Regions from separate parts of the Homo sapiens genome. Here region 1 is linked to region 2. The links come from fine-mapping of genetic effects on gene expression. Tissue or cell type: whole blood. Region 2 holds a variant in brackets; the other region holds the start of a gene. All regions are shown on one strand. Distances are from middle to middle.

Region 1 (8,105 bases), 54 kb after region 2:
CAAATATATATTGTAATGATTCCCCCAGTTCTTCCCCAAAGGGGCCTAGGGTCATCTACTCAGGAGGGCTGCACAATAAGGAAAGAGGATACCCAGAAATGTTTAGGATTAGAACAGGGTCTGAGTTACCATTGACACCCAGAGACCCAAAGCATGCTCCCACCCACTTAGAGTGAGGACACAGGGGAGGCAAAGTCCTACTTACAGAGGGTCTGCCAAGTCTGTGGACTCAGCCAGCAATCATGTCTCTAATGGCCAAAAGTATAATTGGGACCTACATACTTAGAAGTTTGAAAAACTCCACTCCTTGGCCTATAAATAGAGCTACCATAGTGGGGAAGGCCAAAAGGACATCTCTGAAACTGCACCTCAGTACACAAAAAAAAATATTGCCACCCAGGGGTGTTGGTGGGGATTAGTGCCACCCTGAAGTATCTCAACGATGCAGGAATGGTGATCCCTATTGAATCTCCTTTTAATTCATGGGTCTGGCACCTGCAGAAACTGGATCCTAGAAAGTGACTGTCAACTACCAGAAGCTCCACAGGTAGCACTCCTGAACACAGCATCTATGCAAGTGTGGTAAGCTTCACTAGAGCAAATTTGTACAGCCTCAGGCACAGTATGTGTGGCTACTGATTGGGCCAAATGCATGCTTTTCTACCTCAATCAGGAAAAATAATCAGGAAGTTCACATTTACATGGAACAGACAATGATATACACTCACAAGTCGGTCACACTCACAGGACCATGGTAGTTCTCCTGATCTCTGTCATAATATATTCTGAATATATCAGGGACATCTGGATATCCCAGAGAACATCACAATGATCCATTACTTCAGCACTGGCAAACTATGGCCTGTGGGACAGATCCAGTCCACCACCTGTTTTTGTATGGCTTCCAGGCAAATAATGATTTTTACAATTTTTTTTTTTTGAGACAGAGTCTCGCTCTGTCGCCCAGGCTGGAGTGCAATGGCACGATCTCAGCTCACTGCAACCTCCGCCTCCTGGGTTCAAGCGATTCTCCTGCCTCAGTCTCCTGAGTAGCTGGGATTACAGGCGCGCGCCACCATGCCTGGCTAATTTTTGTATTTTTAATAGAGACAGGGTTTCACCATGTCGGTCAGGCTGGTCTCAAACTCCTGACCTCGTGATCCCGCCCGCCTCAGCCTCCCAAAGTTTTGGGATTACAGGCATGAGCCACTGCGCCCGGCCCAATTTTTTTTTTTTTTTTTTTTGAGATGGAGTTTTGTGCTTGTCACCCAGGCTGGAGTGCAGTGGCGCTATCTCAGCTCACTGCAACCTCTGCCTCCCAGGTTCGAGCAATTCTCCTGCCTCAGCCTCCCAAGTAGCTGAGATTACAGGTGCCTGCCACCACACCTGGCTAATTTTTGTATTTTTAGTACAGACAGGGTTTCGCCATGTTGGCCAGGCTGGTCTTGAACTCCTGACCTCAGGTGATCCTCCTGCCTTGGCCTCCCAAAGTGCTGGGATTACAGGCATGAGCTACGATTTTTTACAATTTTAAATGGTTTTTACAATTTTAAATGATTTTTACAATTCTAAATGGTTAATAAATAAATGGTTAAAAAAAGACTAGGATGAATAAGCAGAGCACAGGGGATTTTTAGGGCAGTAAAAATATTTGGTATAATACTATACTGGTGGGCTCGTGTCACCATAAATTTATCCAAACCCATAGGATGTACAACACCAAAAAGAAACCCTAAGGTAAACAATGGAGTTCAAGTGATAACGATGCGCCAAGGTTCATATATTGTTACAAATGTGCCCTCCAGTGCAGGATGTTGACAGTAGCTGTGCATGTGTGGGGGCAGGGAGTATATGCGAATGCTATACTTTTTGATCAGTTTTGCTGTGGTCCTAAAAACTGCTCTAAAAAATAAAGTTTATTATTATTTTTTATCAAAAGAAGGCTATTTTGTGATACATGAACAGTATATGAAATTCAAATTTCAGTGTCCATAAATAAAGCTTTATTGGAACACAGTCATGCCCATTTGTTTATGTCTTGCCTGTGGCTGCTTTTGCAATACAATGGCAATTGAGCAGCTAGGAAAGAGGCCATATGATCCGAAAAGCCTAAAATATTTACTATTTGGCCCTTTACTGAAAGGGTTTGCCGGCCCCTGCATTCCACTGATGGCCCCGCAGCAATCAGCCAGGGTGAGCGAGTGATGGAAACACACTGCAGGGCTTGGTAAGACATGTGTGCTCCAGACGGTGGGCAATCAACCCTATGAAGGCCCAGGGACTGCCATGTCATTCAAGTTTGTAGGGGTCCAGTGGTCAGTGGGATGCTGGGATAGCCTATCAAGTAAAAAACAAATCTACTGCATTTTGCATCCTCTACAGAGAAGGAAACTCAATGCCTCTTAGGCCACTTTGGGTCCTAGAGACAATACATCCCGCACTTAGGAATATTATTCAGGCTGACACAAAAAGCTGCCAGCTTTGAGTGGTGCCTGGAACAAGAAAGGACCCAGGCCACAGTGTAAGCAGCCAGGCTACTTGGGCCACATGATCCAGCAGACCCTGTGGTTTGGAGGTGTCCGTAGTGGAAAAGATGCCATGTGCAGACCACAGTCGAACGCCACCACGCCCGATTAATTGTTTGATGTTTTATAGAGATGGGGTCTCTCTATGCTGCCCAGGTTGACCATCTCCAACTCCTGGGCTCCAGTGATCGGCCCGCCTCGGCCTCCCTAAGTGCTGGGATGACAGGCGCGCGCCACGGCACCGGCCCAGCGTTTTACTTTCCCATACTCTGCCTGAACCTTCCCGAAGAAATGTTTCTATTTCATCAGGAAACCAGCCCTTCTCCGGCTCCTGCGGCGCGGATCCCGCCCCGCCCGCCCCCGCGCTCACCGCCTCCGGGCTTCTAAGCGCGCAGCGATGCGGAGGCGCCGGGCCTGGATGCGCTCCTGAGAGTTGTCGGAGTGGACCGAGGGCGCGAGAATCTGGGTGGACAAGTGCTCGTCCACGTTCGGGTCCAGGGCCTCTAGGGACCCCGGCGGATTCATGGCAGGAGTCCCTGGTCCCTAGGCGGCTCCCTCCGCACCACCTCCAGACCTCAGGCTGGTTGCTAGGAACAAACCGTTGCCAGGGAGAGCGGTCACCGGAGCCACAGCCCGAGTGGTTGCGCGCGCAGCTCCCTGGGCCCAGCCTGCCGCCAGCCGCCGTTCCGGCCGAGCATCCCAGCCTCGGGCTGACGCCTCTCCCGCCCGTGGGATGTCAGGTCTGTTGTCAGGCCCACGAAGGCCCGGTCGTGTTAGCGGAGCTGTGGAGTCTCACCAGGAGACTAGAGGACTAAAGAACTGGACCAAGTTGTGGTTCATCACTTGCTGACCCTGATGATTAATTCATCTTCCATTCATTCATCAAATATTCCTCCAACTCATATTCACCAAATAAAATTGAGCGCCTACTCGATGCCAAGCGCTGTGCTTGGATACAGGATACCAACCTGCAATCAAATACTTATGAAAGAGGAAAAGTGGAATAGAGGAAAACAGTCCGTGGGAGGGGGGAGGGATAAAAGTTAGAAATGCGGAAGCACTATTAAATTCTCAACTGTCCCCAGAAAGGCGCTATCTTCTGGGCGTCTCATTGTCAACAAAAATAGTGTTCTCATTGAGAATTAAAACCTGGCGCGCTGGCTCATGCCTCAGCCTCCCAACACTTTGGGAGGCCGAGGTGGACAGATCACTTGAGGTCAGGAGTTTGAGACCAGCCTGGTGAACATGATGAAACCCCGTCTCTACTAAAAATACAAAAATTAGCTGGGTATGGTGGTGGGCACCCATAATCCCAGCTACTCGGGAAGCTGAGGCAGGAGAATCGCTTGAATCTGGGAGGTGGATGTTGCAGTGAGCCGAGATCGAGCCACTGCACTCCATCCTGAGCAATAGAGCAAGACTCTGTCTCAAAAAAACCCAACCAACCAACCAAACAAAAACTGGATACCATTTAACAGGGTTCTGTCCCATTAGCCCGTGGGGAATTAAGGGCACTGGATGAGCAGTGAGAAAGGGTGAGTACTAGTCCTAGCCCTGCCCTGCCACCTTGGGCAAGTCACAACTTCTTGAGGAGCATTTTCTCAGCTGTTAAATGATGCAACCCACAGACAACTGTGCGGCCAAGACGACCCGTCCTTTGTGAGTAAGAACTGCCCAGAGGCAAATGGAGTGGGTTTTTAAAATCAGTTCTTCCACGTTTGCAAGCAGTAGAGAGGTTTAGGAATGCCAAAACCATCCAACAGCTATAGAGTCTAACAGCAGCTGCCTGGATCCTTGTCTCACACCTGCCTAGGTGGTGGTGGTAGGAGCGGGGGTACTTGCTTCTAGGCTTCAGGGCCTTCTGCCAGATCTCTGTCTCCTTTGGTTGAAACCTAAAGTATTAAACTCTCCTAGGAGCCATGATACAGCTCTGACCAAAAACTCGTCCAGGTCCTGGTTCATGTTTCCACTATCCGTAAGGACAGAAACAAGCATGTGTGCATGCGCATGTCTATGCCTGGGAGTGGGATACCATGAGAAAGTCAGGGGGAATCAGCTGTTGCACAAGAGGTAAGTGAGAGCAAAGGTACCATACAAACCCATGAAGAGTGACCAGTGAGATACTTGGCCCTGCACTGTTCTGATACCACTTCCAACATCTTTTTATATAAGAAATCTGACTCCATTTTTTGCTGCTGACATTTGGCTGCTGGCAGCTTTTACGCAGCACTCCCTCTTTCTTCTCCACATCTGGGCAAGCTGTTAAAAAAAGCCTAGGTGCTCTTTTTGGTGCTGGCAGATTTCATCTGCGTGCACAGGATACCCTCCTCCCAGCCTCACCCCTTAACCACAATAAAAGCCCCAAGCTTGTCTCCTTTCCTGGCTCTCTCTAGCCATTTTCTGACCAGCTGGGAGGCCCTCTTTGCTCCCACAGGCAGCCTCAATTATGTAATAAACCTTTTTCACTGGTGTGGGAAACACTTTCACTCACCGCTGGAAAGGGACCTCCTAGGAGGACAGTTTGCCAAAATCTATTAACTGTTTAAATTGGCATACTAGGGTAAAGGGTGGAATAGGGAGAGATTTGTTAAAGGATACAAAATGACAGGTTCTAGTGTTCTGCACCACTGGAGGGTGACTATAGTCAATAACATAGTTTCAAATAGCAACGAGGATATTGAGCATTCCCAACACAAAGAAATGACAAATGTTTGAGCTGATAGGCATGCTAATTACCAGACCTGATCACTATACATTATATGGATTGAAATATTACTATGTACCCCATAAACATATATAACTATTATTTCCTTTTTTTTTTTTTTTTTTTTTTTGAGACAGCGTCTTGCTCAATTGCCCAGGCTGGAGTGCAGTGGCATAGTCTTGGCTCACTGCAACCTCTACCTCCTGGGTTCGAGCGATCCTCCTTCCTCAACTTCCCAAGTAGCTGGGACTACAGGCGTGTGCCACCATGCCCAGCTAATGTTTATTGTATTTTTAGTAGAGACAGGGTTTTACCATGTTGGCCAGGGTGATCTCAGACTCCTGACCTCAGGCGATCCACCCGCCTCGGCCTCCCAAAGTGCCAGGATTACAGGCATGAGCCACTCCGCCCGGCCTGCCGAATTTTTTTAAATACTAAAAATTTTTTAAACTGAACAAAGGACAGAGAGAGGAAGAAATATTTTCATGGGGCAGACAACTGTGGTTGTAGAGGTCAAAGGAATGAAACAAAGAGACAAAGAAAAACCACTAAACAAGAAAGTCAGAAGACATGTAATGAATTATGATTAAATATAAATGGGAAAATGCATGCTTAATTTTCCATGCCTTTGTAAATAGTTCATAAGTGAGTTAAATTTAGAAAATTGTTAAAAACTGAAAAAACTAGATAAAAACATATTTATTTGTATACACACAAAAATAAATTAGCATATCCATTCACTAGGCAATTCTAGTTTAAAGATCATCACAAGGAGATCATGGATCTAGCTATAGCTCATTGGGGTCACAACTATATCAGTTTTATTCGGTATTTTATACATAGCACCTAGCACAATATTTGATATGTAGTAAGTGCTCAACAAACTTTTTTTGAAAGAAACGTATATAGATGTATCTGTATGTCCATTCCAGTTACTTGTAATATTAAAAAACTAGATATGACAAAATCCATCAATAGGGGAACCGATAAAAGAATCATGGGATTCTCTAACACAAGAATAAAGGTGACCTAGAAAGACATCCAAGATACATTACATGAGAAAGGGAAGAGGCAGGCAGCACAATATAGAGCCTAAGCCGAGTTTGATTTGAAATGTAGACAGTAGTACACAAGAAAAACAGGGGGAATACCACAAAGTAGTCAATATCCCTCAGGGGTGGGCTTATGGGTGATTTTCAGATTCCCTGAAGATTAAAAAAAAATGTTTACAATGAGGATAAATCCCTTTTGACTCAATAAAACATAAAGCTTATTTATTCATGTTTTTGTAAGAGAAATAACAGGAGACCCCCAAGAGAGTGAGGCAGGCAAGTAGGGCTGTTATAGATGAGAGGGACTTGGGGAAGGGAGGCAGGTGATGTCCATTCACCTTGATGACTGACCAGCATCTAGAGTGTGGTCCTCAACTGGTAGGCAATGCTGGTTCATACTAATAAGCTCATACAGGCCGGGCACGGTGGCTCATGTCTATAATCCCAGCACTTTGGGAGGCCAAGGTGGGTGGATCACGAGGTCAAGTTCGAGACCAGCCTGACCAACATGGTGAAACCCCATCTCTACTAAAAACACAAAAATTAGCTGGGTGTGGTGGTGCATGCCTGTAACTCCAGCTACTCAGGAGGCTGAGGCAGGAGAATCGCTTGAACCCGGGAGGCAGAGGTTGCAGTGAGCAGAGATTGCGCTCTAGCCTGGGTGACACAGCAAGACTCCATCTCACAAAAAAAAAAAAAAAAAAAAAAAAAAAAAAAAAAAGCTCATACAAAAGCCTGGCTGGCTCATACTAACAAGCTCACAAAAGAAAAACATAGAATTTCTTTTAGCAAGCAAGTACAACCATCACACAGGGCAGTGTGCATTTTCGTGCCTTTCGTGTAGATCAGCCCACAGAGATGTGCTGGTCACAAAGAGGATCAAACTCTGACTGGGAAGTCCCTTGATATGTAGGACTGACTGCCATGGTTCAGAGGCTCACAATGGGGATAATCTGCCACAAGCACAGTCGAGTTCCTCATCCCTGAGTAGGTTTTTGAGGAATCTGGCTATATGGGCTTCCCTTGCTAAGGAAGGTATGTGGGCATCCACCTTCAGCTTTTATAGCCTTTTTTCAAAACAAGAAGGATGAACAGATTTGATTTTATATCTTACTAAGTCTAGTCACACTTAATTCTACATCCAATAAGTTTACACTAACTCACCTTAATTGGAATGTGAGGATGCTGACAAATTCATCATTTAGACAACTTCTTAGGTTATTTCTATCTTTCGATTTGTGTGAATTTTACTAATTAGATTCTGAGAAGGCAATCTTACCAATTTTTAATTTGGGGAACTGCCTTACCATCATCTTCATATACTGCCTCAAAAGGCATGAAGGAGGAAAGAGAGGGGAGGAGGCATGGAAGTCATGAGCTGTGTCACATGGTTTAGAAAAAAAGTTCAAAGAAAAAAGACAGAGAACTAGATATTAGTAGAAACCAAGCACCTACCTTAGTCCACTGACTGTGCTAAACACCCTGCATGCATTATCCTCATTCAATCCTTCACATGGTGTAATAGTGGTAATATTGATCCCATTTTATAGATGAGGAAACTAAGGCTTAGAAAAAAGTAAAAAGCTCTTTCTTCAAAGTTTGCAGAGTTGAACATGACTAAGAAACAGCCATTGTATGAAAACTTTGGGAGGTTTTAAGAAAACTCTCAGAATGAAAAGAAGAAGAAAATTGAAGGAGCAGTTGTAAAGTTTTCTTTCAGGAAATTTGTGAACAGAGGAAAAAAGATGAGAGTGGGAAGAGAAGCAAGACCCTTTGGGGGCATAGGGTTTTTTTTTAAGTTTTGGTAGCCCCAAGAGTGGTTAC
Region 2 (8,105 bases):
GAGCCACCGCGCCCAGCCGACTCTAACCCAATTTCATTGGCAGAAAGAAGCTGAGCTATGGACAGGGAAAAGGGAAGGGTGTGGCCAGGGTTAGCCAACAGGTCTGGAAATGGCTCTCACCCGTGTGTGACCTCCCAGTCCAGGGCTGTTGTTTTCTGCCCTTCAGGATAATAATTCCATTCAACTCAAACATTTCATAGCCACCATGGCCTGAACACCCAACTGCAGGTGCTCAGAGCTCCCCAGGCACTGGCTCACTGTGCCATTGCGCCAAACCCAGGAGGTAGGTACTGCTTGTAACCCCATTTTATACATGAAGAAACCGAGGTTGATAGAGGTGCCTCACTTGCCTGTGAAAACCATTCAAAACCAGGTGCCCTGCACCCAAGCCCCGGCTCTGTGTCCCCACCAATACTGAGCTCAGCTCTGGGGCTGCACGCCATGTCCTCTGGGAGGCAGTAGTTTGAAAATGCATATGCAGTACTTTCACTTGTATCTTGACATTTTACAAAACCTATTGTTTTTATAACACAAACGACAGATAGTGAGGCTGGCCAGGTGCTTCTCGGCTGGGAGGCTCTACAGAAGGTGGAGTGGGTCTTCATCCTGAGAGTGGGCAGGTCGGTGAGGGCAGCTTGCACCCCACAGGGGCTGCTCAGACCCTCAGCAGGGCCCGGTGGGAACAGCCATTTATGTCCATCAGAAAGGAAGAGGTTGTGAAGCACCAGTCTTACCAAGGACGTGGGGCAGCACATAGAACGAGCTAACCGCAGGAGCTTCCTAACGATGAGAACTGCCTGCAGGGCCAAGGCTGCCCCATGCTGCAAGTAGCTCCCATCTAGGCCTTAGGAGGAGATTCGGGCCCCAAAGGTGCTGCAGGGAGGATAGAGTTTTGTAAGCAGCAAGTCGGGTACTTAGAAATGGGTTTAAACCCTGGCTCCAGCATTCACTGCTTTTGGGGCTGGGGCCATGGCAGGGCTTTTGGGGGTCCAGAAGGACAGAGGATGGGGTGCACTGGGAGGCAGCTCCTGCCCACTGGCTGACCGGCTCCTCTCTTCCACTTCCCAGCCGGCCCGACACGGCCTTCGTCTGGTTCCTCAACCCTCTCAAGTCCATCAAGTACCTCATCTGCACCCGGTACAAGTGGCTCATCATCAAGATCGTGCTGGCGCTGTTGGGGCTGCTCATGTTGGGGCTCTTCCTCTACAGCCTCCCTGGCTACATGGTCAAAAAGCTCCTTGGGGCATGAAGGCCGCCAGCTCCCGCCAGCCGCTCCCCAGCCCTGCCGCATTTCCTTTCAGTGGCTTGGACTCTTTCCCATCTCCCCTGGGGAGCCTGAGGAGCCCAGCGTCCACTCTTCATGCCTTGGGCCGAGCCTGCCTCCTGCTTGCGGGGGCCGCCTGTCCTCACTGCCCCAGGCTGCGGCTTGCCCAGTCCCGCCCCTCTGACCCCTGCCTGTGGGCTGGGGAGCCTTGGATGGGGTGGGGACCTGGAATGGGTCTCTCTTGCCCCACCTGGCTGAGGCGCCACCCTTCTTCAGGCCCAGGCTCCAGAGGAAGACTCCTGAAACCCTCCCCAGGTCTTCCAAGTACAGGATTGAAGCTTTAGTGAAATTAACCAAGGACCATGGGTCAGTGCCCAGGGCTTTAAAAAGAATGAACGAGCAAAAGGTATCCCCGCCGTGACCCCTGCAGATAGCACCGGTCTTTGATCCGCAGCAGGGGCCAGACCCTGCCCACAAGTCCCAGCGCGGCTGCTTCTGCCACTGCTGGGCTCCACTTGGCTCCTCTCACTTCCCAGGGGGTCGCCTGTCCTGCCTGTGGGTTTCCATGGCTTCCCAGAGCTCCCTCTGCCCCAGCCAGCGCCTCCAGGCCCAGCTGAGGAGCTGTGAGAAGCAGCAGAGGGGACTCCCCATCCCGGGCACACCCTGTCCTCCCACCCCTGCCCCCTTGCCCTTCCAGCCCTTTCAGCTGCAGCTGGGAGCTGGCCCGTCAAGTGCTGCCCCTGCCTGTGTCTGGGTTTCTGTTGGCTGTTTTTCTTTTCTTGAGTGGTGATTTTTCTCTAAATAAAAGAAGTCAAGCACTGAGCTGACAGGTCTGCACTGGTCAAGCTGAGAGGAGCAGCCGCAGGTGCGGGGCAGAGGCAGCAGTTCTCTAGGCTGGCAGATTCAGTACCAGCAGGGCTCCCATGGCCTTTCCCCTTCAAGTGGCCTCTGGTGGCCCAGGGTTCAAGGCAGGCCTCAGGCACAGGGCTGCCCACCCAGGCTGCCCACAGGAGGAGTCTTACACCATAGCCCAAAGGGCACACCAGCCTGGGCCCAGGGGCCCCCAAAGCACCGAAAGAATCCTTCAGGTCTGGGGCCAGTCTGAAGGCTTAAGGCCCCACAAGGGCCCAAAAGCTCTAGCCTCCACCCACAGAAACCAGTTCCCCTGAAAGCAAGAAAGGAGCCCCACGCTACTGGCCTCGGCCTCTGACTCACACCACTATCTGAGCCTGGGGCAAAGTCCCCTCATGACACAGAGGTAGGGGCAAGGGCCTGGTCTTGCTAGACCTGACCTCTTTAAAGAGATTCAGCCACAACTTTAAAAGGCTTTAATCATAATGCAGGACACAGGTAACTCCTCTGGCTCCTTATTTCGACAGGCTATAAAGACAGCCCTGGAAAATCCAGAGAGCAGGCCCAGGTGCGGCCCAGTGGGTGATATGAGCTGGCTCCGGCACAGACACCAGCATCAGGCCAGCCCTAACACATCAGCCTTTGGCGGTCCAGCTCATTTTGTGGGTACCCGCAACACCTGAGTGGGAGGAACTTGCAGTTCAGAGTTGATCTGGAAAAGAAAGGGTGAAAGTCGTTACATTTTTCCCAGGGCCCTCCTTCTTTGCCACCCTTGCGAGCCACGCTGGCTCTCCCATGGGCCTCCAAAGCCCTGCACGCATCTCCTCTCCAAAGCTGAGAGATGCTGAACACCCACAGACTGCCTCCCTGCAGGAGACACGCCTGAGCCTTCTTGCTCAGCTTCTGCTCCAGCTGTGACCTCTGGTAGCGTTCTTCATCTCCCGCCCGTCCATTCTCTGCAGTCTTCCCCTCTCCTCTCTCCACGCACCCATGCCATCCCCAATCTAGCCTGCCCCACCTCTTCCTCCCCCAGCCTCTTGTATACAGTAGCATCTGTGGAAGCGGGAACCATACCGTCCAGAATGTCTGGGTCCTGTCACAGGCCAAGGGTCATTATGAGGCCAAGGTTCACTACAACATCCCACTTTCAGCTGTGGCCTGGGACCTGGGACTGTGCTGGGGCCACGCAGCCCCTGTGGCTGGACTTGGAGCTGGCCTCAGTCACCTCACACGTGTGCAACTAACAGCTG[C/T]GTCACGACCTTCCTGGCCTACAGCCCCAGCTGCAGGTGCCCACACCCGCAGAGCAGGAAATGTCAGCAATGGACTTTTTCCTTCCTCCTCTTGCCAGGCCATGGGGAAGTTGTCCACAACTATTGCAGGGTTGGGCACAGATGGGGGCCAGGGAATATCTGCCCCAGCAGAGCCTCCTTCCCCATGCGAGGATGACCCTCCAGTCATATCCCAGGCAGGGAACCGGGGCTGGTGGGTGGAAAGAGCCCAGGCTCTGGACGAGTTGCAAACTCTGCAAGTTGTGATTGTCCTTTGTGTGAAATGAGGAGCATTGTTTCCGCCCTGTCCACCTCACACAGCGGGTGTGAGGATGGAAGAAGAGAGCACAGCTGGAGGCTCTGTAGCTGGGGAGCTGCTCCTGGCTGTGGCACTGCTTCACACAGAGCAGTCCCAGCTGGCCACTGGCACCAGAAACCACAGTATCAAAGAGACACTGTCACACCTGAGCTGTCCTGGAGGAGACTTCAGGCAAGATCTACTCCTTTGGCCAGTAGTTGTCTCAAGGTGCCACTCTTGATTTTTTACATCATATCACAAAGCTCCCTTGCCTCTGACGGGGAGGGGACTCCTCGTTCCCTAATCCCAGCTCCAGTGCCCCTGCCCCACCCGTGTCTCCCGCTGCCCCTCCTTGGAAGGCCCCGCCGCCCACCTTGGAGTTCAGATACTGCTGCAGTAGCGCCTGCAGCTCTGTGTTCTGCTGCTCCAGAGAACTGTTTTCCAGCAGCAGCTTGGCCCTCTGGGTCAGGACAAGGCTTTGGACAGAAAAATCGGTTAGAGGCTCACTGAATCCTCCATCCTCTGCCAAGTAGGGGCCAGGGTCTTGGTGGTTGTACTTTGGCTACAGGTGGAGGGAGACTCCAGAAGCTACACTCTTCACCCAGCCGCCAGGTGAGCCAGGTTAGCAGGAACAGAACAGGCAGGCCAGGGCCCAAGAGCCAACTGCCCCACATGATCCACCCACACAGGAGATGCCAAGGGCAGCTCTTCCCTCCCAGGTTCAGTGGGACAGGGAGGCAGCAAACGCGGCTGCTCCCAACAACCGTTCCTCACCTGCCCGCCAGCACCCTCCTGCTCCATGACATGCACACTTACTGGTACTTCTCCAAGGCTGTGTAGAGGGCATCCCAGAGGTTCTGCTTGGAGGAAGGGATCACTGTGGTCAGGGCCTGCCAGTACTCCGAGTCCTTGGAGTTGTCACGCACATTCTTCTGTACCCTCAGCGGGGCCCGCGAGTCCCTGAAGGCCAAGAGCACAGTGATTGTCATGTCCATTGGGTACTACCCAGGCCCCCAGGCAGTGCCAGTCACAGGCCTACTGCTTTCCCACCTGTCACCTTCCCACTCAGCAGTCCAAGTTTATTAGACGGTGGCAGGTTCTCAGAAAGGACGCATGCTTATTGTCAACGTTCCTGCCTCGGTACCACCGGTACCTTCGTGAGGGCATAATCCGTGCTTCATCCACCCCTCTCTCTCCCAATCAGTTTACCTCACTGGCTTTACAGCTCATCACTGTGCCCATCTCTTGCACCAACACATCCAAAACAGCACTTGAATTCAGTCATGTCCTCTCCATCCCCTCATGACAGCCTTAATCTGGGGGATCCTCACCTCCCACCTGGACAAGCCTCCTGATGCTTTCCCTGTATCCAGCTTCGCCCCTTCCCTGACGCCACAATGATCTCTCTAAAACGCAAGGCTAATCATGGCTCTTCGGCTGCTTCAAATCCTTTTCTGGCTCCCACCCACCAACGGGTAAAGACAAAGATCTTGGGCACATTGGGCAAGGCTCTCCAAGACCTGGCTAGCTCCCCACCCACCAGTGCCACCTCCCAGGCCCTTGACACTCCAGCCAGACCTCCTGTGATGATTCTTGAACAGACCAGACCTTCCCCATGCTGTCATTTCCTGAAATGCCCTTACCTCCATTTTATCTGCCTGGGAACACCTAGTTCCAGTGCCATTTCCTCCCAAAACCCTCTGACATGCCAAATGGAAACGGCCACTTCCTCCTCTGAACAATGGTGCACCTTGAATGTGCTTTGACCATTACTCTGATCACAAGGCAGTGCCCCCACAGTGCTTACACATGGCAGCCTTCAGTGCATGTCTGCTGAATGAATGATGAGTGAAAAAAGCACAGATCACCACTATGCCCTATTGCTTTCCTGACTGTCCAGCGATTGGTTGCCCCAGCCCGCCTTCAGATAGCCCTGTCCTTAGTCCCCGCATCTTGCCCAGCAGACTCTTCTCCACTCACTGGCTCTGCCTGGCTCCCCAGCCCATCCAGCTCCCCTGGTTCTGGTCTCAGGCAAGCCTTCCAGCCCCGCAGCCCACCTAGGCTTCTTCAGACCCATGACGAAGGCCTCCAGAATCTTGAGGACATCATTGGGGTGGATGACCCAGGGGGAGGGTGGGGTCTCCTCCTCTTCCTCCTTCTCCCCTTCCACCAGGCTTTCTTCCTTTTCTCCCTCCATCTCCGTCTGCTCTGCCAGCTCCAATTCTGACCTCGTGCTTGTCTCCTCCATGCTCGCCTTCTCCATGCTCGCCTGACTGCAGGGCTTGATCTGGAGAAAGATGCACGGACAACTGTGGGCTGGGGACACACGAGCATGAGCATGGAGAGAGAGGCAGGAAGAAGAAAAACCAGAAAAGTTTACAGAAAGTGACAGCTTGCCCAGGGAGACATTTACACAGGGACAGAAACAGGAGAAAGAGTGGGAAGAAGGGGGATGGGATGGGGAGAGGCACTAGGAGGCTACGAGAAAATGGAAAGGTTCTGTTTCTAAATCCGGGCTCCTAGGTGCTCACCTTACTGACATTCATAAAGCTTACATGTTAGAAATCTTCTTTTGAATCATAATACAGATTAAATTTTTGCTTTAATTGTTAAATTTAAAAGGTCTTCCTCCTACTCCTATTTTGCAGTTCATGCAATTGACCTCCCACAGGCAAACGAATGCTATCAAGTTTCCTATGGTTCCTTCCAAGGAAATAGTATGTCTATATAATGTTTATATATAAATACATGCGCATACCTTTCCATATATACTCCTCCTTCTCGTTTTGACATCAATGATACTATACTACAAATAGAGTTCTGTAGTTTGCTTTTACACTTACCAATAAACCTTAGGTACCTTTTCATGTGAATACATAAAGAACTTTGGTTTTTTCCCACAGTTTTATAGTACCCCATCGTGTAGACATACCATATATTATTAAATAGATTCCTCAACAATGGACATATAGGTTGTTTCGAATCTTCTGCCATTTCAAACAATGTACAGTGAATCAGCTACAATAAATACACCATTTCAACTGTAATGAGATATATTTAGAGAATAAAATCCTAGAAGAAGAATTTCAGAGGCCAAGGTGGGCAGATCATTTGAGGTCAGGAGTTCGAGAGCAGCCTGGCCAACATGGTGAAACCACATCTCTACTAAAAATACAAAAATTAGCCGGGCGTGGTGGCAGGTGCCTGTAATCAATCCCAGCTACTCAGGAGGCTGAGGCAGGAGAATGGCTTGAACCTGGGAGATGGAGGTTGTAGTGAGCCGAGATCGTGCCACTGCACTCCAGCCTGGGCAACAGAGTGAGACTCTGTCTCAAAAAAAAGAAGAAGAATTTCAGAGTAAAATGTATATAGTTTTGTAATTGATACTGCCAAACTGTCCTCAATGGAGGTTACAATTTATACTCCTACCAGTAACTTATGAGTGTGCCTGTTTTCTACACCTCAGTCATCGCTATGTTATACTTGCTGTGTTATCAAGCTTTTTTTTTTTTTGCGCCAACATAACAGGTTGGCAAAATGGAAATCAGCCATTTTAATTTGCATTTCTCTTATTACAAGGAAGGCTGATTGTCTTTTCATATGTTTAAGAGTTACCTGTATTGCCTCTTCTAGGAGTTGTTCATTCATATTTGTTATCTGTTCCTTTTGTTGGTCTTTTTCTTATTGATTTCAGAGAGCTCTTTATATATTAAGGAAATGCCTTAACTATGATATGAGTTGAAAATATTTCTCTGCAGCTTGTCATTCATCTCTTAACTTTGCTTATCATGATTTTTGCACTACAGAATTGTTTTTAAATTCTGTAGTCAAATATAGCTTTTATTCCCTTTATGGCTTTGTGGTTTTGTCCATTTCTGCCAGCTCTTTTTTTCTTTTCTCTTTTTTTTCCCTTAGAGACAGTGTCTCACACTCTGTCACCCAGGCTGAAATGCAGTGGTGAAATCATGGCTCACTGCAGCCTCAACCTCATCATGGCTCACTGCAGCCTCAACCTTCTGGGCTAAACTGAGCCTCCCAAGTAGCTGGAACTATAGGCATGAGCCACTGTGCCTAGCCCAGCCAACTCTTTTTACAGGCATGTCAGGATACTCAGCTTTGGGCTAGCAGTACTAAAAACATTTTTCATTCACATTTTTCATTTTTAAATTAAAATGTTATATGACTTTTAATATGGCATCTTCTTTAAAATAGTTAATATTTGATTCACCTTCTGAAATCAATTACAATCAAGATATGTAGGACAAATGGGCCTTGCCTTGCGGGAAAGTGTTAAGGATCAAAATATTCAGAACCTGGTGGGCTCTGGTCTCACAGTGGCTGAGACCTGGTTTTGAGGGAGGGTGCAGGAAAAGATTGCTTGGGCCTCAGTATAAGAACAGCATCTCACCCCCAAGCCATTCTT

Evidence for each region. PIP is the estimated chance that this variant, and not a neighbour inherited with it, causes the effect.
Region 1: DRC1 starts here. The variant in region 2 is fine-mapped to the expression of DRC1 in whole blood (TOPMed, PIP above 0.99). The same link has a PIP of 0.9 or more in neutrophils.

What each region holds. Positions count from the first base shown.
Region 1 is chr2:26,396,935-26,405,039 of GRCh38, reverse strand. DRC1 (dynein regulatory complex subunit 1) reads right to left here and starts at 3,120. Exons shown (of 17, transcript NM_145038.5): 1 at 2,896-3,120. The coding sequence starts at 3,050.
Region 2 is chr2:26,451,184-26,459,288 of GRCh38, reverse strand. It overlaps DRC1 (dynein regulatory complex subunit 1), which reads right to left. Exons shown (of 17, transcript NM_145038.5): 14 at 5,740-5,969; 15 at 4,499-4,642; 16 at 4,056-4,158; 17 at 2,578-2,828. The coding sequence ends at 2,772. It overlaps OTOF (otoferlin), which reads left to right. Exons shown (of 47, transcript NM_194248.3): 47 at 1,069-2,086. Among named protein-coding and RNA genes, the nearest start is that of DRC1, 53 kb to the right of the region's middle. RefSeq lists enhancers at 517-1,086, 1,087-1,657. The variant C/T (reference allele first, on the strand shown) is at 3,367.